3 linked regions of the Homo sapiens genome follow. The protein of the gene in region 1 purifies or fractionates together with the protein of each later gene. This does not show direct contact. Each region holds a gene or a part of one and is shown in the gene's direction. Other genes may lie near its edges.

Region 1 (7,958 bases):
GCTTAGGGACCCCCACAGAGGGAAGGAGGGGCTAGGAGAGCTGGGGAAGACAGAGGTAAGGAAGAAAATTGTCCACTTCAGGGTCTTGGCCCTCGGCAGATGTGTCCTTGAATCGGCCCTGGGGCTTCAGTCTGGGAGGTTGCCCTGTTACTCTTAGTCACTCAAGGTCCCAGTTTGAAAACCAGAACTCAAGATCCCAGTTTGAGAACCAAAACTGGAACTGTTCTCACAACTTCTGATAAGCTGTGGTGCCTCTTGGAGCTCCAGGGACATCATGAGAAGAGACTGACATGAAATTATCAGGCTTTTTATTCTCCAACAGCCCTGTCTCAATACGTGGCCAGCTCCAGCCTACATCCCAAGAGATCTAAATGCATATCTGGCACAAACCTCTCAGAACCTCTCAGATTCTTACCTCTCAGGTTTTCTTACCTGAAAGAAACCTCTCAGGATTCTCACCATCTCACACTTGAGATCAAACTGCACTAAATAAATCCCATAGGAAATAGTTAAGGTCTAGATTATACGGCAGTGTTTGTGATCCTCTGAGAGCATCTTCTATTAATTTATTTTATTTATTAATTTTTTATTATACTTGAAGTTCTAGGGTACATGTGCACAACGTGCAGGTTTGATACAACATGTGCCATGTTGGTTTGCTGCACACATCAACTCATCATTTACATTAGGTATATCTCCTAATGCTATCCCTCCCCCAGTCCCCCACCCCCTGACAGGCCCCGGTGTGTGATGTTCCCTGCACTGTGTCCAAGTGATCTCCTTGTTCAATTCCCACCTATGAGTGAGAACATGCAGTGTTTGGTTTTCTGTCCTTGTGATAGTTTGCTGAGAATGATGGTTTCCAGCTTTATCCATGTCCCTGCAAAGGACATGAACTCATCCTTTTTTATGGCTGCATAGTATTCCATGGTGTATATGTGCCACATTTTCTTAATCCAGTCTATCATTGATGGACATTTGGCTTGGTTCCAAGTCTTTGCTATTGTGAGTGGTGCTGCAATAAACATACATGTGCATGTTCTTTATAGTAGCATGATTTATAATCTTTGGGTGTATACCCAGTAATGGCACTGCTGGGTCAAATGGTATTTCTAGTTCTAGATCCTTGAGGGATAGCCACACTGTCTTCCACGATGGTTGAACTAATTTACACTCCCACCAACAGTGTAAAAGCATTCTTATTTCTCCACATCCTCTCCAGCATCTGTTGTTTCCTGACTTTTTAATGATTGCCATTCTAACTGGCATGAGATCATATCTCATTGTGGTTCTCATTTGCATTTCTCTGATGGCCAGTGATGATGAGCATTTTTTCACCTGTCTGTTGGCTGCATAGATGTCTTCTTTTGAGAAGTGTCTGTTCATATCCTTTGCCCACTTTTTGATGGGGTGGTTTGTTTTTTTTCTTATAAATTTGTTTGAGTTCTTTGTAGATTCTGGATATTAGCCCTTTGTCAGATGAGTAGATTGCAAAAATGTTCTCCCATTCTGTAGGTTGCGTGCTCACCCTGAGCAGATCCCATTTGTCTATTTTGGCTTTTGTTGCCATTGCTTTTGGTGTTTTAGTCATGAAGTCCTTGCCCATGCCTATGTCCTGAATGGTATTGCCTAGGTTTTCTTCTAGGGTTTTTATGGTTTTAGGTAACATTTAAGTCTTTAATCTGTCTTGAATTAATTTTTGTATAAGGTGTAAGGAAGGGATCCCGTTTCAGCCTTCTACATATGGCTAGCCAGTTTTCCCAGCACCATTTATTAAATAGGAAATCCTTTCCCCATTTCTTGTTTTTGTCAGGTTTGTCAAAGATCAGATGATTGTAGATGTGTGGTGTTATTTCTGAGGCGTCTGCTCTGTTCCATTGGTCTATATCTCTGTTTTGGTACCAGTACCATGCTGTTTTGGTTACTGTAGCCTTGTAGTGTAGTTTGAAGTCAGGTAGCATGATGCCTCCAGCTTTGTTCTTTTTGCTTAGGATTGTCTTGGCAAAACGGGCTCTTTTTTGGTTCCATGTGAACTTTAAAGTAGTTTTTTCCAGTTGTGTGAAGAAAGTCATTGGTAGCTTGATGGGGATGGCATTGAATCTATAAATTACCTTGGGCAGTATGGCCATTTTCACAATATTGATTCTTCCTATTCACGAGCATGGAATGTTCTTCCATTTGTTTGTGTCCTCTTTTATTTTGTTGAGCAGTGGTTTGCAGTTCTCCTTGAAGAGGTCCTTCACATCCCTTGTAAGTTGGATTCCTAGGTATTTTATTCTCTTTGTAGCAATTGTGAATGGGAGTATACTCATGATTTGGCTTTCTATTTGTCTGTTATTGGTGTATAGGAATGCTTGTGATTTTTGCGCATTGATTTTGTATCCTGAGAGTTTGCTGAAGTTGCTTATCAGCTTAAGGAGATTTTGGGCTGAGATGATGGGGTTTTCTAAATATACAATCATGTCATCTGCAAACAGGGACAATTTGACTTCCTCTTTTCCTAATTGAATACAAGGAGGCAAATTCTAAGTCTGAACAGAATACAGAAAATTCTGACAGTCAGCACTAACTGAAGATGGAGAGACTGGTGTAAGCAGGGGTGCCAGGACCCTTTTGCAATGTGACCTTCTTAGATTAAAGTGCTGGGTGGGGGAGAAGTCGAGGCAAGGCTCCAAGACCCCTTCAGCCCTGTGAGCCTCTGAGCCTAAGCTGGAATGACTTATCTCCTCCAGGGTGGCCACCACAAATGCCGTGTGCTTCCAGAAGCATCACTGAAAGATTGTAACAGCTGATCTTTCCATGGCTAGAGAGCCCTCACAACCTATATCCCTCCTTCTCAATGTGAAGTTCTGGATGAGAACTTATTCCATCTGATTTTTCTCATTGTTTGAACAAGCTGTGTACCAAGTTCCCCAGTTACCTCCAAGATTTTCAAGGTGGAATTTGTTCTGTGCCTCATCTGCCCCCACCTCCTACCTATCCCACCACCAGGCCTTATTTCCCTTTCTGTGGTATGCAGAGCAGAGTGGGGAACAGCCGTGGACAGGACACAACTAACAGACAATGAGCATCCCTAGACATCCCCACTCAGGATTTGTAGCATACCTGAGTCAGAACAGTCCACGACCTCCCAGGAGATACAAGGATGCTAGATTCTAACGATGAAGACACACATCACTGTTCTTAGTATTATGCAATAGCTGCTTATAACCAAGAAAAGGGAACCCTCCAAGAGGAAGGGGTGGGGGATCACTGGGATGGGTTTTTTGCTGAAGAGGAAATAGAGGATCTAGAAGAAGAAGTAGGGCCGGGTGCAGTGGCTCACACCTGTAATCCCAACACTTTGGGAGGCCAAGGCGGGCAGATCATGAGGTCAAGAGATCGAGACCATCCTGGCCAACATGGTGAAACCCCATCTCTATTAAAATACAAAAATTAGCTGGGAGTGGTGGCATGCACCTGTAGTCCCAGCTACTTGGGAGGCCGAGGCAGGAGAATCACTTGAACCTGGGAGGCAGAGGTTGCAGTGAGCCAAGATTGCACCACTGCACTCCAACCTGGCGACAGCAACAGAGTGAGACTCTGTCTCAAAAAACAAAACAAAACAAAAACAGAAAACACAACAAACAAACAACACAAAGAAGTAGAAGATGCAGAGAAGGAGCATATCAATATAAAAGCAGTCTTCATTGGATTGTGTCTGTCCAATCATGGACTCTGATTGGGTGACAAGTATTGAGACAGGGCTGTTGGAGAATGGAAAGCTTGATAATTTCACGTCAGTTTCTTCTCATGTTGCCCCTGGAGCTCCAGGAGACACTGTGGCTTATCAGAAGTCGTGAGAACACTCTGAGAACACCCAGACAGGCTGTTGGCACAGCACGTGAGCAGAAGGGAAAGGGCCCCGAACTCAGGAGGCCAGAAAATAGACACGGTGGCCTTGAGCCTGGCTGAGTCTGCTGCCGGGGTGCTCTTCCTTTAGGCAGTCCTGGAGCTGACTTGAGGGGAAGCCCCCAGGCTCTGGAGCAAGCATTCTTAGTTAAGGTTTACTTGCTGTAAATTTTTACCCTGGGCAATGCTAATAGCTCTGAAAGGGGATAAGAATGGTACTGTCTTAGTCTGTTCAGGCTGCTATAACAAAATACTGTAGACTGGGTAATTTATAAGCAACAAATGTATTGCTCATGGTTCTGGAGGCTGGGAAGTCCAAGATAAAGGTGCCAGCAGATTCATGTCTGGTGAGGGCCTGTTTCTCATGGATGGTGCCTTCTATGTGTCCTCAGGTGGCAAGAAGGGCAAACAGCTCCCTCAAACCTCTTTTAAAAAGTTGCTAATCTAATACGCGAGGGCTCTGCCCTCGTGACTCAATCACCTCCTAAAGACCCCCCTTACTATGACTTTGGTGATTAAGTTTCCACATTCGAATTTTGGGGGGCTTATTCAGATTGCAGCAGGTACCCACCCTCTAAAGTTGAGAGGATAACACCACCCAACATCTTAAGCTGACCTACATGAAACTGCTGATATGCAACTGCTTTTCAACATTCGCAACTGGCAGTTTCCTAGGGGTCCACTGAATTAACCTATGATAGTTACACTAGAACAGCAGCTCACAAACTTGTCTGCACCTTAGAATTACTTCTGGATCTTCTAAAAATTCCAAAGCCCAGGTAACACCGCATACCAATTCAATCACAATTTCTGCAGGTGAGACACCTAGCCAGGTAATCTAATGTGCAGGCAGGTTTGGGGACCACTGGTTTAGCACAATACCTGGGATCTAGTAAAGCGCTCAGCACACCACCTGTGATTTTATTCGTCTATCATTTATTGAGCACCTACTGCATGCCAGGCTCTGACTGGGTTCGCCTCTTGTCACCCGGGGCCTTCCTCCCCAGCGGTGCTCAAGTCTCCCCTCTTCCTCCTCCGCAGTGTCCAGGCCGCGCAGCTCCCCTGACGACCTGAAGGCCCTGACTCGCAATGTGAACCGGCTGAATGAGAGCTTCCGGGACTTGCAGCTGCGGCTGCTGCAGGCTCCGCTGCAAGCGGACCTGACGGAGCAGGTGTGGAAGGTGCAGGACGCGCTGCAGAACCAGTCAGACTCGTTGCTGGCGCTGGCGGGCGCAGTGCAGCGGCTGGAGGGCGCGCTGTGGGGGCTGCAGGCGCAGGCGGTGCAGACCGAGCAGGCGGTGGCCCTGCTGCGGGACCGCACGGGCCAGCAGAGCGACACGGCGCAGCTGGAGCTCTACCAGCTGCAGGTGGAGAGCAACAGTAGCCAGCTGCTGCTGAGGCGCCACGCGGGCCTGCTGGACGGGCTGGCGCGCAGGGTGGGCATCCTGGGCGAGGAGCTGGCCGACGTGGGCGGCGTGCTGCGCGGCCTCAACCACAGCCTGTCCTACGACGTGGCCCTCCACCGCACGCGGCTGCAGGACCTGCGGGTGCTGGTGAGCAACGCCAGCGAGGACACGCGCCGCCTGCGCCTGGCGCACGTAGGCATGGAGCTGCAGCTGAAGCAGGAGCTGGCCATGCTCAACGCGGTCACCGAGGACCTGCGCCTCAAGGACTGGGAGCACTCCATCGCACTGCGGAACATCTCCCTCGCGAAAGGTACCGCCAGGCCCTTGCTGCCTCCACCCACGGCCCCTTCTGATGGGGTCTTCCTCCTGCACGCCCCTCCCCAAGGACCCAGGAGTACCCCAGCCCCACCCCATCCCCAAGTGCACTTGCCATTCCCAGCCCCATACTCTCTAAGTCTTGCCCTACAGGACTCTGGAATTTTCTGCCCAAATGGCATGTACCCACATCCAGGGCTTGCACAGGTCTCTTCCCAGGTAAACCTCCCTCGGGTAGAGAGCAGATTCAGTGGCCACTCTTCTAGATGTGAGAGTTTGCTCCAGTTGTGGCTAATGGGAGCCTGGTGGTCAGCTTGCGTGGGTGTGCTGGAGCCTCCAAGAGCTTGAGGCTGGGGGCAGAACAACTGGCTCAGGCCGGGAGTAGAGAGGGGCTCCTCTAGTGTCATTCCCAGGGTGGAGATCTGGAGTTAGAGAATTCCAAACTTGAACCTGGCCTTCTAGGCTCTTAGGAAGACTTACTCATTTAGGCAAAAGAACGTATTTCATTGAACGATCAGCTGGTTTCATTTGTAACTGTTTTTTGTTTGTTTGTTTGTTTTGTATTTTGTTTTTTTGTTTTCTGTTTTTTTGAGACGGAGTCTCGCTCTGTAGCCCAGGCTGGAGTGTAGTGGCTTGATCTCAGCTCACTGCAAGCTCCACCTCCCGGGTTCACGCCATTCTCCTGCCTCAGCCTCCCAAGTAGCTGGGACTACAGGCGCCCTGTAACTGTTTTTGTTGTTGTCGTTTTGTTTTCTGTTTTCAAGTTGGGGTCTGGCTCTGTTGCCCAGGCTGGGGGGCAGTGATGTGATCATGGCAGCCTTGAACTCCTGGGCTTAAGTGATCCTCCTGCCTTAGCCTTCCAAGTAGTTAGGACTACAGGTGCACACTGCCATGCCCCACTACATTTTTTTGTTTGTTTTTTTGTTTTGTTTTGTTTTGGTTTTTTTTTTTTTGAGATGGAGTCTCGCTCTGTCGCTCAGGCTGGAGTTCAGTGGCATGATCTCCCTCACTGCAACCTCCACCTCCCAGGTTCAAGCGATTCTCCTGCCTCAGACTTCTGAGTAGCTAGGATTACAGGTGTGTGCCACCACTCCTGGCTAATTTTTGTATTTTTAGTAGAAGACAGAGTTTCACCATGTTGGCCAGGCTGGTCTCGAACTCCTGACCTCAGGTGATCCTCCTGCCTCAGCCTCCCAAAGTACTGGGATTACAGGCTTGAGCCACTACACCTGGCCAGTTTTTAAAAATTATTACTGTTTTAGAGATAAGGTCTTGCTATGTTGCCTAGGCTGGTCTTGAACTTCTGGCCTCAAGTGATCCTCCCACCTTGGTTTCCCAAAGTGCTGGGACTATGGAATGCCAGTCCATTTGTAATCTTAACTATAATGGCAAAAATGCAAAAATGTATGGGCCTCCATTGTACTCGTGCTGTGGGCCCACAAATGATAGAACCAAGAGACCCAACTCCCTTTCTTCACTCCTGACAAACTGGTCCCCTTCCCTCCCCCAATTCCTTCCTGCTGCACTCACCATCAGAAACACCTTTCATGAAATGCACTTCTCCCACGTCATCCCCCTGCTCAAAGCCCACTGTGGCTCCCCATGGCCCACTGGATTCGTTAGAAATTCCTTAGTCTGCCATCAGCACAAATAATACCATTGCGAGCATCTAGTATGTGTTACCTACTGTGCCAGTTGTATCTCATGTGGGCATCTTTTGAAAACAATGGCTCTCCAAGGGAGTGATGTTTTCCCTATTTTATTGACAAGCACACTGAGATTTGGGAAGCTTCCATAGCTTGCCCACAGCCGCAGGGCCAGGAGGTGATGGACCAGCATTTACATGCTGGCCTTTCTGATCCCAGAGCTAGTGTGCTTCCCATTGCTTTCCTATCCTGTCCTGCCTGCCTTCTCATCCACTGCCTCTCATGCTAGGGGGCACAGAGAGAACTGCTGCAGAGGCCAGTGAGCAATGTCAAGGAGTAGAGACTGCAATGTCAGGGGAGTGTTAAGGGTTATGGCAGGTCTAGCCCATTTTTGCCAGGCTGGAAGGTGGACCCAGGTTGACAAGGTCTGCCTCTGTTTCAAACGAAACCAGAAACATGTGATGTTCTCGAGATATTTAATTGTTTAACTCAAGGGCCATACATGGTCTTGCTGTGGGTGATGCATCCAGTCTAGTGGGGCACATCTCGTCACTGCCCTGGAAGCACAGCTCACCTTCCCCACTGACAGCTGTGCTCCAGAGGCTCCTGCACCTGCAGGGCCCTCCTCATCCTCCTCCTTCACCTCTTCTCTTCCTTCTCCTCTTTCTCTTCCTCCTCCGTCTCTTCCTCCTCCTCCTTC
Region 2 (8,592 bases), on another chromosome or scaffold:
CCTCAGCCTGTAACATCTGTAGAACATGGAAAATTCAACCTACTTGAGACTTTCCTTATTTATAAAATAGGGATAATAATAATAATGCCTACTTTATTGGTTTATTGAGACTATTAAATTAAGTAATGCATCTAAATGCACCAGTCCATGATGCGAGTAAATGCTCAATAAATGGTACCTATTATTTCTGGCAAAAACAGAAGTCACCTACATGGAGAATAACAAAGCGTTTGGAATCTTATAGAGTTCTTAAAAATCAACCAGGTCTCCGGTCTTCTAGATTTGGATCATTTCTACAGGCAGTATCTGGAAGCCCCTTGAGCTTTTACCCTCTGATTTTATCCAAAGAATGAAGCACAACTGAAATCTCTCATTCTCGCTCTCAACCTCTTTCCTAAATGTAGCAGATATATGCACATCCTCTGATTCAGATGCAAACTTTGTACCTCACAGACCCTGCAGACCATGTGGCTCCACTTCACTGTCCTTTGCCTCATAGGAGTCACCCTCTTTGGGACATTTTCTCACATTTTTGCAAAACTCTGCTTTAGGGAACAGATTTGAAGCTTACACACTGAAATAAAACTGAATAACAAGGCTTGATTAGGCCCAAAGACTGAAGGGGAAGAAAATTTCCTATTTTATGATTTTAAATTCAAAGTCTTGAATGCAGGGCATTAGAGTGGGAAGGAAGATTCAAGAGAATGCTAATGTGAAAGAGAAATGGACTCAGAAAAAGAAAAGAAAGAGAGTGTAATGTGCTCTTTGGTTGCTATTCTATTTGAGCCCAGTTCTCCAGCCTTCTTCTTAATTTTGTGAGCTACCCCAAAGTTCCTTTCCTGTGTAAGATATCCCAAATCTCTTTTTTTCACTTCTAGTAACCCTTACTGTTTCATAAATAAAGAGCAATGGCAGTTAAGAATGAGAAGCAAAATAAATAAGATACAAGAAAAGTAGAGAAGTTGAAGAAAGTAACTGGATCCTATGACTGTCTCAAATTTGGAAGGGTTGCAGTCCTGATACATGCATATCCTTCAAAATAAGCCCCCCCACCTCCAACACTTTTTATTAAAATGGTATCTATTCCTTGCAACGGAGGGAGCAACTCTTTTTGTTTGTTTGTTGTATTGGTCAGCACTCTTTCAGTTGCAAGTGCTAACAGAAAGATAGCTAATCACTGCAGCAATAAAGTCCAGGGTCCATGCATTCCGCATGGCTAGATTCAGAGGTTCAAAGGATATTATCAGGAATCTAATTCTCCCTCCATCAGTTCTGCTCTCCTCTTTGTTGGCTTTATTGTTGGTTTCTCCTCTTGATAGCAGAGATGACCATTGGAAGCTTCAGGCTTATTTTAGATTAATTCATCATCTCAGAAAAAGAAGTTTCTCTTTTCCAATAGTTTTCACAAATGTTGTGTGGTTTATTCTCACTAGAAAGATTTGAGTTACTTTCAGTTCTTGAAATATAATTAGAAAGTGATGATGTCAGGCTTGGTCATATGCCTGTCTTTGAACTATGTTCAACCCATACAAACCACATGGGAATAAAAGAGGGAAAACTGTTTGTCCAAGGATGGCAAGGATTACTAGTTGTCCTCCATAACCATTCTTTAGTTCTTTCTTGATACCAAAATCTCAAAGTGTTAGCCAGGCATACAGCCATCCAGAATCAAGACTGCATTTTGAAGCATCTCTTGAAGCTAGAAAGTCAAATGATAAAATGCTGTCAAATTGAATACGAGTTGAAATAATACAGGCAACTTCCAAGAAATGTCCTTAAACAGATATGGCATGTCTTTACATATTTACTAATGACCAGAATGTGAACATTCTGGCTGCAGATGAATAAGTCATTGTAGACTATGTGGTGACTTTAGAATGGAGGAAATGCATGGTAGAGTAACAAGATAGAGGGAGCCTGGGTCCCAAACACTTTGGAGCTTCCATACAAGCCCTAAAGTACCTTCATCTGGACTTTCATGTGATTACAAAAATAAACATATACCTTGCTTAAGTGGGTGTTAATTGACAAACTACACAACCCAGCATAATCCTACCTGATACCCCCAAAGCAGAATCACGTTTGCTACTGTAAACAGATAAAGGTTTAGGAGATGGGCAGGTATGTCCAATGTCTCACTTCCTAAAAAATTCTATCCAAGTCAGTCATTACTCTGATTGGAAATTTGAAGAGGAAAATCTTCCTGGTTTTGATATATGTGAGTACCCAGGGATATCACAGTTTATGAATTCAAAGGTTAAAAATTATTTAAAAATTAAGCCAAGCACAGAATTATGAGAAATCATTATATTCATGTTTTATTTTCTAAGGGAAATAGTACTGATCACAGCAGATGACTCCACATTTAACCTTGTAATTTTAACAATGGAATACAAAAATAGCAGGTTCATGATGTGAATAATTGTTCAAAGTATATATAAGAGCTCCTTCCAGGCCAGGCATTGTGGCTCATGTCTGTAATTCTAGCACTTTGGGAAGCTGAGGCAGGAGGATCACTTGAGCTCAGGAGTTCAAGACCAGCTTGGGCAACACAGTAAGACTTCATCTCTACAAAAAATTAAAAAACTAGCTAGGTGTGGTGGCACATGCCTGTAGTCCTAGCTACTCAGGAGGCTGAGGCAGGAGGATCCCTTGAGCCCAGGAAGTGGAGGCTGCAGCATGAGCTATGATTGCACTACTGCATGCCAGCATGGTCAACAGAGTGAGACACTTCCCCTCACCCAAAAGAAGAAGAAGAACTCCTTTAAGTATATTTGTTTTGACATTTTTATTAACAATTAGAATGAGGAATTAATTAAATTGTGATCAACTGTGGAAATTACATGATGCCAAGTGAGTGGTTCATGCTTTGGGTAATGGAATCATAGAATCATGCAACATCTAAACTTTGAGAGACTTTTAAGGTGAATCATAGCGTCCCATTTTACAGCTGAGGAACCTGAGGCTTAAAGGGGGTCCACTTGCCCAAAGTACACCTGGAATAAAGGGTAAAGCTGGGATACAATCTTTCTACTTTTTCTTTTTGAATAAATGAAAGCTACCTCGTGGTTTGACTTCAAATAGACATTTAAAAAAAACTAGGGCAGCGAACTGATGAGACAAGATGAAATGCAATCAAGTCAAATCTATAAGGACCTACACATTGGGTCCAAAAAGGCCCACTGTACAAGCACAGTATGGGGTAGCTGTGCCTTAATCAGCAGCACTTGTAAGAAACATTTAGAGATGTTACTTGGCTGCAAGTTTGAGATGTCAGCAGTGTGATATAGCCACAAGAAAAAGATAATGGAGTCTTAGGTGGCATTACTAGAAATAGAACTTACAAAAGAGAGGTGAGAGTCCTGTTGAACTTTTCAATCCATATCTGAAATTCCTCGCGCAGTCCCAGGTGTGAGATTTTAGAAGAGACATAGACAAATTAGCTTACATCCAGGAGAGGAGCCTAGGATGGAATTATATGAATAATGGTCAAAGGAAGTTAGGAAGCTGCAAAGTGCTGTAACTAAGAGCTTGAATCTTGGAGTCAAGACTGCCCGGGTTTAATCCCAGCTCTGCCAGTTACTGTGTATATGTTTGTTAAATCTTCTTATCACTGCCTGTAGATTAGAAATTACAATAATACCTATCTCCAAAGATAAATGAGGTAGTGCATGTCAAGTGATTAGCGCATAACTCCCATAAAACAAGCACTCAATAAATGCTAGCTACTATTAGAATTAAGACAGCAAAGTGATGCCAGGGTAATGGTAACAACTTCATAGGTTGTGAATATTTAATCAGTTAACCCATGCCAGGTGCTTGATACAAAGTTGGCAGCTATTATTATTATCTGCCGTAGAATTGGTTTAAGGTTTCTAGGGATGGGACTAGTTTGGGGACAAAATATTTTCTGGTTTGGGCTAAGATCCACAGAACCTAATGATCAGTTTACAGCCTGAGGAAGGAAGTCAGTTATACCCTGATCAGGGTGGGGGTCATGGTGGTCATCTAGACATTCTATGGCTGGGTGGTGGTGGAGGGCACTCACCTTGTGAACACTCGGACATGGTGAATTGGCATTGGCATTGCTGTTGAAGGACAACTCAGCCGTGTTCTTAGCCATGGCCATTTAGGCCTGTTCTGATGCAGGGTTCTGATCCAAGGTACCAGTGTGGTCCCTCAGGGAAGTACTGGGGATCGTCACTTATGCCTGTTCTGGACATGGTCACCGAGAACTGTCCTGTAGGCATTCACTTAGGAATCATTCGAAGTGGAATTGCTCCTGGATACGTTCTCCTTGTACTCTGTTTCCTCCTCCTAGTGTCTCTGTGTGAAGAAGCCCTCCTCACTCAGCCCTCGGCGACCCTCTGGTACCCTGGACAGCTCCCCGGGGAGCAGTCTACCGCTAGGCGGCGGCTGCTAAGAGAGGAACCCTCCTGACGCGGAGTCTGCCGCTCCGGGGCTCGCTCTCCGGCAGGCCCGGGGAGAGGTGGGGTGACAATGGGTTGGGGTGCGCGCGTGCCTCATAGGTGCGAGACAGAGCGAGCCGCCGGGGTGTGAGTCAGCGCGCTGGGGGCTAAGAAGCTGGGTGAATAGTCACGGAATCTCACTCACGCTCGGCTCCTCCACCCATCCCGTCTACAGCGCGTGTCCCAGTCCAGGGCGTGCGTGCGCTCGGTGTCCGATTCCGGGCTGTGTGTGTCCATTTGGCGAGATGTCGAGAGCGGGGGGAGTGTCCTTGTCGGTGTATCTGGGCCCAGGTTAGGGGACTTCTCCTCCCCACCCCCGCGTGGGTGTGGGGGTGTGTCCGGGCTAGGGCGCGTGTGCTTCTGTGCCTGTGCGTGCGTGTGCGGGTCAGGGTGGTGGGACCGCGCATCAGGGCAGGGTGCCTGCGTCTGCGTCTGGGTCTGTCTGGTCTGCATGTCGGCGCGATCTCGACCTGGATTCGTGTCCCTGGATGTCGAGAGGCCAGCGTGGTGGGGGTGTCCAGCCTCCCGGAGGAGTACTATGCCTTGACACCTTCGTTTCACCGCCCCAAAGCTGGCCTGGGGCTCCGTAGGGAGTGGCCTGCATGGGGAGGGCCCGCGTGCTGTGTTTCTGGGAGGGGTAAGAGAGTGGGGGCGCAGGGGGCGGGCCAGGTCCCTGGGCGCGGCGCGGGCTCGGGGGACCCGCGCGGCTGACGTCAGGCCACTCCTTAAATAGAGCCGGCAGCGCGCTCCGCTCGGCATTTCCCGAAGAGCCAGATCGCGGCCGGCGCCAGCGCCACCGTCCGGTCCACCCGCCAGCCCGCACAGCCGCGCCGCCGCCGAGCGTTTCGTGAGCGGCGCTCCGAGGATCAGGAATGGGGCTTCGGGCGCTGGGCGCGCTCCGAACCCGGCGCACGTAAGAGCCTGGGAGCGCCCGAGCCGCCCGGCTGCCCGGAGCCCCATCGCCTAGGACCGGGAGATGCTGGAAATGCAACCGCCTGTTCCCCGAGGAGCCGCTGCCCCCGGGACCCCCTGGCACTGTGCGCACCCTGGTCAGCAGCCCCCGGAGAAGACGGCGCCCCCAACGCCCGACCCGCGTGGCCGTGGCAGCGCCACGCGAGCCCTCTAGGCGACCGCAGGGCCACAGCAGCTCAGCCGCCGGTGCCCCCTCGGAAACCATGACCCCCGGCGCGGGCCCATGGAGCCATGGCCTATAGGGTCCTGGGCCGCGCGGGGCCACCTCAGCCGCGGAGGGCGCGCAGGCTGCTCTTCGCCTTCACGCTCTCGCTCTCCTGCACTTACCTGTGTTACAGCTTCCTGTGCTGCTGCGACGACCTGGGTCGGAGCCGCCTCCTCGGCGCGCCTCGCTGCCTCCGCGGCCCCAGCGCGGGCGGCCAGAAACTTCTCCAGAAGTCCCGCCCCTGTGATCCCTCCGGGCCGACGCCCAGCGAGCCCAGCGCTCCCAGCGCGCCCGCCGCCGCCGTGCCCGCCCCTCGCCTCTCCGGTTCCAACCACTCCGGCTCACCCAAGCTGGGTACCAAGCGGTTGCCCCAAGCCCTCATTGTGGGCGTGAAGAAGGGGGGCACCCGGGCCGTGCTGGAGTTTATCCGAGTACACCCGGACGTGCGGGCCTTGGGCACGGAACCCCACTTCTTTGACAGGAACTACGGCCGCGGGCTGGATTGGTACAGGTAAGGACCAGGAGCTCCGCTCCGTGCGCCGGGTCTCTGATCGCTTCCATTGGGAGAGCCATCCGTCTCTTGTGTTTTCTCTTTCTTTTAACCCAACTCATTGTATGGGTTCAGGCTGACACACAGGGCCATGGGGGGCTATAGCAGAATTTACCCAGAACTTCCCAGTGATAATCTAGACGGGCAGTTTCTGGAACTGCAAAGGGCGTTCCCTCGTCACTGGAGTCGTTGGAAAAGGATTATCTCCAGTCAAACCTAAGTGCCAGCTAAAGGGCTAACTCCCTCTGTGACCAGCCCTTAGGGTGCCCAAGGAAGGGACAGGCGAGGACCTGTGCTGCCTGAACACGGCACCATCCTAACCCTCTGTAGGTCTTTGCTGGTACCCAGCCCCTGAAGGACCCTGAGAAAGATAAGGCAGTTCAGAGACCCCTTGCAGCAAGGCTCTGTTTGGGAAAGGTCCCCAGAGTTCAGGCCAAATGACAGTGCATCGCCAGAGGTCTCCAGTAAGAAAGATGCCTTAGGGAGTCTCAATCTCAAACCCAGGTATTTGCTGCTGTACTGGGGCTGAGACCCCCAGTAGCTCTGGCCCTGGTAGGTGGTCTTTGAGTAGTGGAAAGAGCCCTGGATTCGAGTCTTGGGTCTGTCACTTAAGCTTGAGCAAGTTTCTTAAACTCTATCAGCCTCTATTTTCTCATCCATCCCAATGGGCAGGAAAACAGCCCTTGCCCTGTATACCTTCCAAGGCTTTTCTGAAGTGCCTTAAAGGTGTAAAAAAGGCACTTCACTTTAAGTGATGCTTCTAAACCAGCAGCCAAAATGTGGAATTTGAAGGTGGGCCCTGCGGGTGAAGGCTAGCAAGGGTGCTAGGGGCAGCCAGTCATGCATAGACTGTCTATGCTTCCCATGCATGCCAGGGAGGAGAATTATCCCCACTGGGGGAGTCAAGGCACAGACCAAAGCTTCTGTGAGGTGGCAGCGTCCACGCCTCAATGCCTTTCTGCCTCCCTAGCCCTGTATGGTGCTGAAGTGTAGGACTGGCCCACATGTGGGTGGTGTAATGTCCCGGCTCCCTGTTAACACATAGGTCACAGAATTCTCACAATTCACCTGACCCTTTGAAGACTTTCTAGAAACATCTGCATAGTAATGACGTTGGGGAGGGGTAACATGGTAGCTGACAGAGTAGCTGAGGCTAAATCTGCTGTTTTTATCTACAGCTTTAGGCAGTAGAGGTCATATGCATATTGGACAAGGGACAACTTTGTTAGAAAGAGGACCCCACTGGGCTTATAATAGAGGGCCCTGGATTTACCAAAAGTAGGGGGACCGCAGGCCTGATTTAGCACCTTTGCAGGTTACTCCTGGCTCGCAATGGTTGTAGTTGTGGGGACGAGTGGGTCATGCATCATCCTTAGCAGGCAGACACATAGTCTGTCCCCATTGCAGCCAACCAGGGGCTAGCTAGCCTGTGGGTGGCCCCAGCACCATTATGTCTGGTTAATAGGGTAGGGTGGCACAGAGTGGCAGATCTGGCTTCATGCCAATGCCAATAGCCCACTGTGCTTTCCAAGCTGTGACTCATGGGCATCCCGTCTAGGTGCATGTGGACACTGTCTGAGTCAGATCCCGGGATGGAGGAGGCAAACACATTGAACAGCAGAGCCCAGAGTGGGTCAGCCATGACCACATTCGAATGCAGGCCAGCATTTCCTCGATGGAAAATCTGAAGATCATTATGACACCTTTTGCCAATGCGAAGTGCCTTTTAAGTGCAAAACAGCAAAATTCTGAGCATCTGGCTTTCAGATAGTGTGCCCTCCAATAAATACCTATGCCCTGAACCCAGACTCTCCTCCCTCCCCTCTCTTCCTTCCACCACTAAACAGCATACCTCAGGCTTCCATCCTGGAGCCCATGTCATTCAGGGATGGCTGCTTTTTATTTTTAACCTTGGCATGTGTGATTCTAAGCAAGCTTAGCTGTGAACCTTAGAGAGGGAAGCCATGTCTTATTTTTTATTTATTTATTTTTTTTTAGCACATTTGGATTCTGCTAAAATTCTCAGCTGAGTCTTGGTAGGTTTTATTTAACATCAAGCATGCTGACAGCTCTGCTTCTCTCTTCTCTCCCCCTCTACCACCTTTCCCCACTTTATATTTCTAAAAGACTATCCTAGAGGTCTGGTCGTAATTGCCCTCTCCCCATTGCTTGACCAGGAAGGCTGGGAGGCTCCAGTGTCAGGAAAAGGCTGTGTGGTTTGTGCTTCTTTCAGTTACAAATCCACACCCCTAGAGTCAAGTGTTTAGCTTGTGGATTGCCATTTCTGTGCAGGGTAATACTACCCCACTTAGATGCTGTTTCCATAACCTCCAGAACATCTTTCTGTATGTAAAGAACATTTTTGTACATTTCTTTTTATTATGACCAAGTCATAC
Region 3 (7,958 bases), on another chromosome or scaffold:
GCATTAGATTTTCATGATAAACCTCAAACGCAGAAAGGACAGGCGGGACCGGATGCTGCGCACACTGTATGAACAGGAGATTGAGGTCAAGATTGTCGAGGCTGTGGATGGAAAGTGAGTTGGGTTTCTTCTCCCATTGCAGATGTGATTGGAGTGTGGATGTGTCTTCTCTGACAGAGAGTTAGTCCCAGGTGGGGCTCTAAGTCTCTTCGGTCATTAGAGGATAGTCTTATTTTCAAAACGGCCACCTGTAGTAGCATTTAAGTTAATTTCATCCTGTAGAGCAGGCCTGAAATCCACTCACCAGCCAGTGGTCTTTGGTCTTCATTACACTGAAGGCTCACATTGGATGTGATTGTCCCGTCTCTGGGGGTTCTTGCAACAGTTGTGGTGGTTTTCAGCCTTCTGTAGTGTAACAGAAGGAATGTGTTCAGAATTGTGTTCAGAGCTGAATTAGAGCATAAAGTGCTGAAACTTGGTCAATCTGAAGAAAATAGATGGAAAATGCATAAAGGTGTACATTTCCTGTTGCATGAGATGCCTGCCACAATCTGCCTGGACCGATCATAGTGGCCACTTTTCCTGGAAATATGGCAGGAAAGTAACACAGGGAACCTAGTTAGATCCCTTCTTTTTTTTTTTTTTTATTTTGTTCAGCTTTGCCCTTTTATTTGACACCCTAAACTATTTCAAGGCATAGATTTTTATAAAATGTGCCTTTCCATGTTATATGTTGGTTTAGAATATCAGTAGCTTTGTTTTCTATTTGCATAACTCCAACTAAGGAGTATGGCTAGCAGCTGTTGAAGTTTTTATGACTCCCTTAGAGAATCTCATCAGTGTTTCCCAAAGTGTGACCTGGACACTCACATCAGAGTCCCCACGGATGGTTAAGGGGACAGCTCCCTCAGTCCCATCTCAGACCTGCTGAATTATGCTCTCTGAGGCTGGACCCAGGATCTGCATTTAAGAAGCCTCAAGGTGATTCTTAGACAGGATTGCCCCATAAAATACTGGATAGCCAGTTAAATTTGTCCCAAACATCACATGGGGCTTGGTTATACTAAAAAATTATCCATTATTTATCTGAAACTTAAATTTGACTGAGTGTTTTGTGTTTTTCACTTCCTAAATCTGTCAGCCCTATTCTTGGGTGCAGTAGAGTTTAGGAACCACTGCTTCAAATACCTCCAAGAACACCAGTCCCATTCATAGACCACATGGACCAGGGAAACTAGTTGAGTAGTGAGAGTTCTTTATATATCCTGGATGCAAGTCCTTTATCAGATATGTAATTGTCAAATATTTTCTTTAACTTTATGCATTATTGATTGTCACAATTTCATGATGGTATACATTGAAGCAAAAGAGTTTTTCATTTTGATGAAATCCAATTTATTTTTTGTTCTTGTTGCTAGTAATTTTAGTGTCATACCTAAGAATCCATTGTCAATTTCAAAGCCATGAAGATTTACTTCATGAAATTTTCTTCTGAGAGTTCTACAGTTTTATCTATTACATTTAGGTATTTGATCTATGTTGAGTAAATTTTTGTATATGGCATGAGGCAGGGATCCATATTCATTCTTTTGCACATGGTTATCCATTTGTCCCTTCACCATTTGTTAAAAAGACTTTCGTTTCCCTCGTAGAATTGTCTTGGCACCATTGTAAAAAGCCAGTTGCCCATAAATGTAAGGATTTATTTCTGAACTCTCTATTTTATTTGATTGATCTATATGTCTATCCTTATGCCAGTACTATACCGTCTTGATGACTGTAGCTTTGTATTTAAGAAGTATGAGTCCTTCAATTTTGTTATTCTTTTTCGAGTTTGTCTCAGCTATTCTGGGTCCCTTACTTTTTCCATATGAATTTTAGAATTAGCTTGTCAAGTTCCACAAATAAAGAAAACGGCAGCTGGGATTTTGATAGGAATTGCATTGAGTCTGTAGATCAACTGGGAGAATATTTCCGTGTTAACAATATGAAGTCTTCTGATTCGTAATCATGGAATGTCTTTTTATTATTTAGATCTTCTTTAGTTCTTTGAATGATGTTTTGTCATTTTCAGTATACAAGTCTTGCATTTATTTTGTTAAATATACTCCTAAGTATTTTACTCTTTTGATGCTATGGTACATGGAACTATTTCCTTAGTTCTATTTTCAGATTGTTCATTGCTAAATGAATAAGAATACAATTGATTTTTGTATATTGATCCTGTATCCTGCAACCTTGCTGAACCCTTTTTATCAGTTCTAATAGTACTTTTTCCTTTGTGTGTGTATATTCCTTAGGATCTTCTACATACAAGACCATGTCACATGCAAGTAGAGATAGTGTTATATGTTCCTTTCAAACCTGGATACCATTTATTTCTTCTTCATGTCCAACTACCCTTGCTGGATCATCAAGTACAATGTTGAATAGAACTGTTGAGTGCAGTTTCTTGATTTGTTCCTGATCTTAGAGGGAAAGCATTCAGTCCGTCACTGCTAAGTATGATGTTAATTGTGGGTTTTTCACAGATGGCCTTTACTGGGTTGAGGAAGGTCCCTTTTAGTCCTATTTTGTTGAGTATTTTTATCATAAAAGGGTATTGGATTTTGTCAAATGGTTTGTCCGTGTCTATTAAGATGAACATGTGACTTTTGCCTGTTAATATGGTACGTTACTTTGATTGGTTTTCACATGTTAAACCAAACTTGCAACCCTGGGATAATCCTGGGACCCATTTGGTCATGCTGTATAATTCCTTTTATAAATTGCTGGATTCTCTTGCTAGTATTTGCTTGAAGATTTCCACATCTATATTAATAAGTGATATTGGTCTGCAGTTTTCTTATAATGTTTTTGGTTTTGTATCAAAATAATATTGGCTTCATAAAATCAGCTGGGATGTGTTCCCTCCTCCTCTTTTTTTTTGGAAGTTTGTGAAAGATTCGTGTTAACAATTTTTAAACATTTGGCAGAAACCCCTAGTGAAGCCATCTGGTTCTAGGCTTTTCTTTATGGAAATTTTTTTTATTACTAATTAAACTTCTTTTCTTGTTATTTATTTACTTTCTATTTCTTCTTGAGTCAATTTTGGTAGTTTGTACCTTCCTATCAATTTGTCCATTTCATCTAGGTTATCTAATTTGTTGCCATACAATTGTTCATAGTATTATCATATAATCTTTTTTACTTTCATAAGGTCAGTAGGAGTGACCCCTCTTTCATTCTTGACTTTAATAGTTTGAGTTTACTTTTTTTTAATTCATCAGTTTAGGCAAATAATTGTCAATTTTGTTGATCTTTTCAGAGGACTGACTTTTGGTTTTGTTGATTTTTCTCTATTGTTTTTCTATTCTCTAGTTCATTTATTTGTACTGTAACCTTTATTATTTTCTTCCTCCTGTTTGCTTTGGGTTTAATTTTCTCTTTATCTAGTTTCTTAAGATGGATGGGAGGATTATTATTTGAGATATTCTATTTTACTAGAGACATTTGCAGCTGTAACTATATCTCCAAGTACTATGTTAAGTGTATCGCATAAGTTTTGGTATGCTGTGTTTTCATTCATCTCAAAATATTTTCTAATTTCCCTTGCAATTTCTTCTTTGACCCATTGGTTAGGAGTGTATTGTTTAATTCCACATTTCTGAATTTCCCAAGTTTCCTTTGGTTATTGATTTTTAATTTCAAACCATTGAGGTTGGAGAACATACCTTGTGTGATTTCAATCCTTTTAAGTATACTGACACTTAATTTATGACCTATATGGTCTTTATGGTCTAAAAAATGGTATTTCTTAGAGAATGTTCTATGCACACTTGAAAGTGTGTATTTGGCTATTGTTGGGTGGAATGTTCTATAGATGTCTGCTAGGTCTGATTATTTTAAGATATTATTCAAGTCTTCTGTTTCCTTGTCTTCCTCCTGCCTAGTTCTATTATTGCAGGTGGGATATTGATGTCTTCCCCTATTATTGTTGAATTGTCTGTTTCTCCTTTCAATTCTTCCAGTTTCATGGTTCTGAGGTTCTGTTAGGTGCATATGTATTTATAATTGTTATGCCTTCCTGATGGATTGACCTTTTTTTTTTGAGATGGAGTCTTGCCCTGTCACCCAGGCTGCAGTGCAATGGCACGATCTTGGCTCACTGCAAGCTCCAGCTCCCAGATTCACACCATTCTCCTGCCTCAGCCTCCCAAGTAGCTGGGACTACAGGCACCCACCACCATGGCCGGCTAATTTTTTGTATTTTTAGTAGAGATGGGGTTTCACCGTGTTAGCCAGGATGGTCTCGATCTCCAGACCTTCTGATCTGCCCACCTCGGCCTCCCAAAGTCGTGGGATTACAGGCGTGAGCCACCACTCCCGGCCCAGATTAACCTTTTTATCATTAAAAAATGTCCTTCCTTGGCTCTAGCATGAATTTTGTCTGAGATTTATTTTGCCCAATATTAGCATAGCTCTGCCAGCTCTCTTGTCATTGCTGATTATATGGTATATCTTTTTCTATTCTTTTACTTTCAACCTATTTTTGTCTTTTAATCTAAAGGCTGCCTCTTATAGATACCACATGGTTGTATTAATTTTTAAAACTTACTATGCCAAATTCTTCCTTCATTGCAGTGTTTTATTCATTTGCCTTCACTACATTTTTTTCCAGATCCTTAAGGTCAGCCAGAGGTGAGAGACTAGGGACTTCTCAAGTTTTTCCTGGGCGTGTGGACAGCCCTGAATATGCCTGGGGCCTTCTAGATTCTCAGGGATATTTTGGAGCAAATCAAACTCCCTATGGACCTCTTATTCCTTGGTTTTTCCTTTTAAGTTTTTTGGTGGGCTTCTTGTTAGCATCAGCTGATAATGCTTCTCAAACAGCTGTAATGTTAAACAGTTGTTGCTCATGGGTTTTGACAAATGACCTGCAGATAGTGCTGTTCACAGAAAATGAACTCTGAGTCAGGTCAAATCAAGACAAGCTCTGAGAATGTAGCTTTTCAAGGAGCTACTAGACAGGTTGAATAGAGATTATTTTCTGGGGGCAGGTCTTTAAGGGAGTCTCAGTCCATTTTGTCCCTGCCAGTGGCTTCTGGGTTGGTGGGGTTTGCCGCTCTCTTAGTTGTGAGGCTACTGGTTTTCAAGGCTTTTGTAGGGCTGGGGTGAACAGGTTAGGATTAGGGCAGCTGTGAACTTCACAAAGCTCACTGTGTTAACAGAGATTCAGCAGTAGGTCTTGATCAAACACTCCTTGGATTATTGCAGTACTTTAACTAATTTCCATAGGAGTGTACTTATTAAATCTTGTCAAAAAACTGATGATGCTTAGAACTATGTTGGGCACTATGAGGGATACACAAAAATATGATACCCTCTTGTCTTCCCAGACCTCATAATACTAGTGTGACACATTAGCCTGGAGGAACTTCTAAGGAATAAAGGGAAGCCTCTCTGTCTTTGTCTGTGTGGGGGAGGGGTGTTTGCAGAACTAACTCTCTCTTTCTCTGGCCTTTGTGGTGGGGACCTTTGACTTGTTAATCTCCAGACGTGTTTTATGTGATGCAGGGCACTCAACACAAGCCAGCTGAAGGCACTGAATATTGAAATGCTGCCTGGCTATCGAGATCCCTATTCCTCCAGGCCTCTAACAAGGGGTGAAATCGGCTGCTTTCTCAGCCACTACTCAGTCTGGAAAGAGGTAAATAATGCTTTATTCAGATTGCAGTTTTATGATGAGGAGAAAGGAAAGCAGGCTATCGTAGGTGAGTTAGGGCCAGATGTAAAGTGAGCCCGCAACTGTTCTGGAAATGTGCATGAGAGCTGCTCCTGCCTTGTGTCTCCCTCTGACCCAAGACCAGCAACAAAGGGGCAAGGAGGAGTAGCTTTGGTGCCACTTGGGGTGGTGACGGGGGAGACACCCATGTCCTGTGTGCCACACTCTTATTAATTCATTATCATCATTAGCAGGAATGCCTTCTATTATACCTATTATGACATCACTTATTAAGTGATTTTATACAAGAAATCACACAGAAGTCATGTGAGGTGGGTTGGGAAGGACAGACCACCTTTACCGAAGAAGAAATTATTAAGTAGCTTGACCCGGTAAGAAGTGGCAGAGCCAGAAGTGGAACCCCTGTCTTACAGATCAAGACATATCTGGAGCAGATATTGGTGTGTGGGGTTCCTGATAAACAGTCAGTTTCCACAACCAAAAAGAAAGTCCCTGAAGAAAGGCCCCTTGAACACTTTCTCTTTTAATGATCCAGTCTATGCCTGCCTTTGTTTTCTTTAAACTTTAAGTGAAATGTGATAAATAGGTATAAAAAGATATAGATCAAAAGATACAGCTCAGGGAAATTTCACAAACCAAACAACACACCCATGTTAATCAGTACACAGATCCAGAAGCAGGTAACCAGCATCCCACAAGCACCCCCCCACCCCGTACTGCCTTCTGGTCATCAGTCCCCAAGGGCAGTCACCATCCTGACTTCTAAAGGCATTGAATAGCTTTACCTTTGTTTGTACTTTCCCTTATATGAATGGAATCATGCAGTATGTGTACTCTCCTAACATGACATTTAGGAGATTCACCTATAACGTTGCGTTTAATTGTGATCATATATCCTCACTGCTGTGAATATTCCAAAGTTTATTATCTATTCTACTGTTGATGGCCATTTGCTTAGATTCCAGTTATGAATCTGTGCTACTAGACTCGTGACTTTTTAATACTTATTTATCTAATAAAAATTGGGTTTCAAACTTTTCATAGGGTATCTTCCTACTGATGACTTTTGCAGGTAATTGATCGAGAGCTAGAGAAGACTCTTGTAATTGAAGACGATGTGCGTTTTGAGCATCAGTTTAAGAAGAAGCTGATGAAGCTGATGGATAACATTGACCAGGCTCAGCTGGACTGGGAACTGATGTGAGTGACAAGATGATCTTACGAGAGGGCTCTGAGAGGCACTCAGTCCTTTCCAATGCGCAGAGAGCCCCACCTCCACAGCCAGTAGGAGATACAGCTTAAGCTTCCACTTATCTAGTTTTCTTTCCATAAATGTTCTCAGAAATAAAAATGGGTAGAGGTTAGCCACTGGATTTTGCATCCTTCTACTCTTCAGGGTGGGAAACTGTGGAAGATTGTCTGAGACCTGGAGTCGGCCTGCAGATCAGGGACCTTCAGACAGAACCAAGGTGTGGCACTGAGCACTTACTTAGGAGCACAGCAGAAATCCCACCCTCAATTAACGTGGCACATGGAGTGGGTGTGAAGCTGGAGAAGAGGCCATTTATTCAAGCTCTAAAGTCCTGTGTCATATTTAAGACTCAGCTCCCGGGACAGCAGGTTGCCTCTGCAGCTTCCGAGAAGGTGGGAGGTTAGAGGGTCAGCCAGGGAGCTCCTCTGTTGGGAAATGGGGCTGCACAAACATGAAGAACATGGACAACTAGATTTGGGGAAGGGTCTGAGGCTGATGCAGGAAAACCAGGCTCACCAAGGGAGTGCTGGCTCTGAGCTGACATTTAGTTAATGTTCTTTGTCTACTCTCTGGGAATTGAGTGGCTTCTGCTTTTTTCTTCCCTTCCCTTTCATTTTTCCTTCCCTTCCCTTTCATTTTTCCTCTCCCTCTCTCCCTTCCTCTTTCCTTTTTCTTCTTCCTCCTCTGCCTCCTCCTTTCTCTCTCTCATTTTCTTTTTAAAACAAATGACACTTTCAATTTCTCTCCAATGAAGCAGAAAGTTCCCAAGCATTGTGTTTGCTCCCAGCTGTGTGTCAAAGGCAATTCATCAACTCTGAGCCTGCTTCTTTGGAGCAGCTGCAGCAGAGGAGCTGTCCCTGCTTCTCCCACCCACAGGCGGTATTTAACTGTGGGCCCAGGTGGAATACTTGTTCCCTCAGAAAATGGGCCACTCTGAGCTCAGAAGAAACCTAGCAATGGCTCAACTAATGCGTCACTGTG

The links.
Region 2: the proteins of SCARA5 (region 1) and HS3ST2 purify together in Homo sapiens (affinity purification with mass spectrometry; 2 studies listed by BioGRID and IntAct, with this or other methods). This does not show direct contact.
Region 3: the proteins of SCARA5 (region 1) and COLGALT2 purify together in Homo sapiens (affinity purification with mass spectrometry; 2 studies listed by BioGRID and IntAct, with this or other methods). This does not show direct contact.

What each region holds. Positions count from the first base shown.
Region 1 is NC_000008.11:27,919,220-27,927,177, reverse strand, and holds part of SCARA5 (scavenger receptor class A member 5), read left to right. Parts: intron 1-4,932; coding exon 4,933-5,607; intron 5,608-7,958. UniProt on the Homo sapiens protein: Ferritin receptor that mediates non-transferrin-dependent delivery of iron. Mediates cellular uptake of ferritin-bound iron by stimulating ferritin endocytosis from the cell surface with consequent iron delivery within the cell.
Region 2 is NC_000016.10:22,808,939-22,817,530, forward strand, and holds the start of HS3ST2 (heparan sulfate glucosamine 3-O-sulfotransferase 2), read left to right. Parts: upstream 1-5,223; 5' UTR 5,224-5,672; coding exon 5,673-6,157; intron 6,158-7,754; coding exon of another isoform or gene 7,755-7,884; exon of another isoform or gene 7,885-8,592. UniProt on the Homo sapiens protein: Sulfotransferase that utilizes 3'-phospho-5'-adenylyl sulfate (PAPS) to catalyze the transfer of a sulfo group to an N-unsubstituted glucosamine linked to a 2-O-sulfo iduronic acid unit on heparan sulfate.
Region 3 is NC_000001.11:183,943,163-183,951,120, reverse strand, and holds part of COLGALT2 (procollagen galactosyltransferase 2), read left to right. Parts: intron 1-7; coding exon 8-114; intron 115-5,556; coding exon 5,557-5,689; intron 5,690-6,797; coding exon 6,798-6,925; intron 6,926-7,958. UniProt on the Homo sapiens protein: Beta-galactosyltransferase that transfers beta-galactose to hydroxylysine residues of collagen.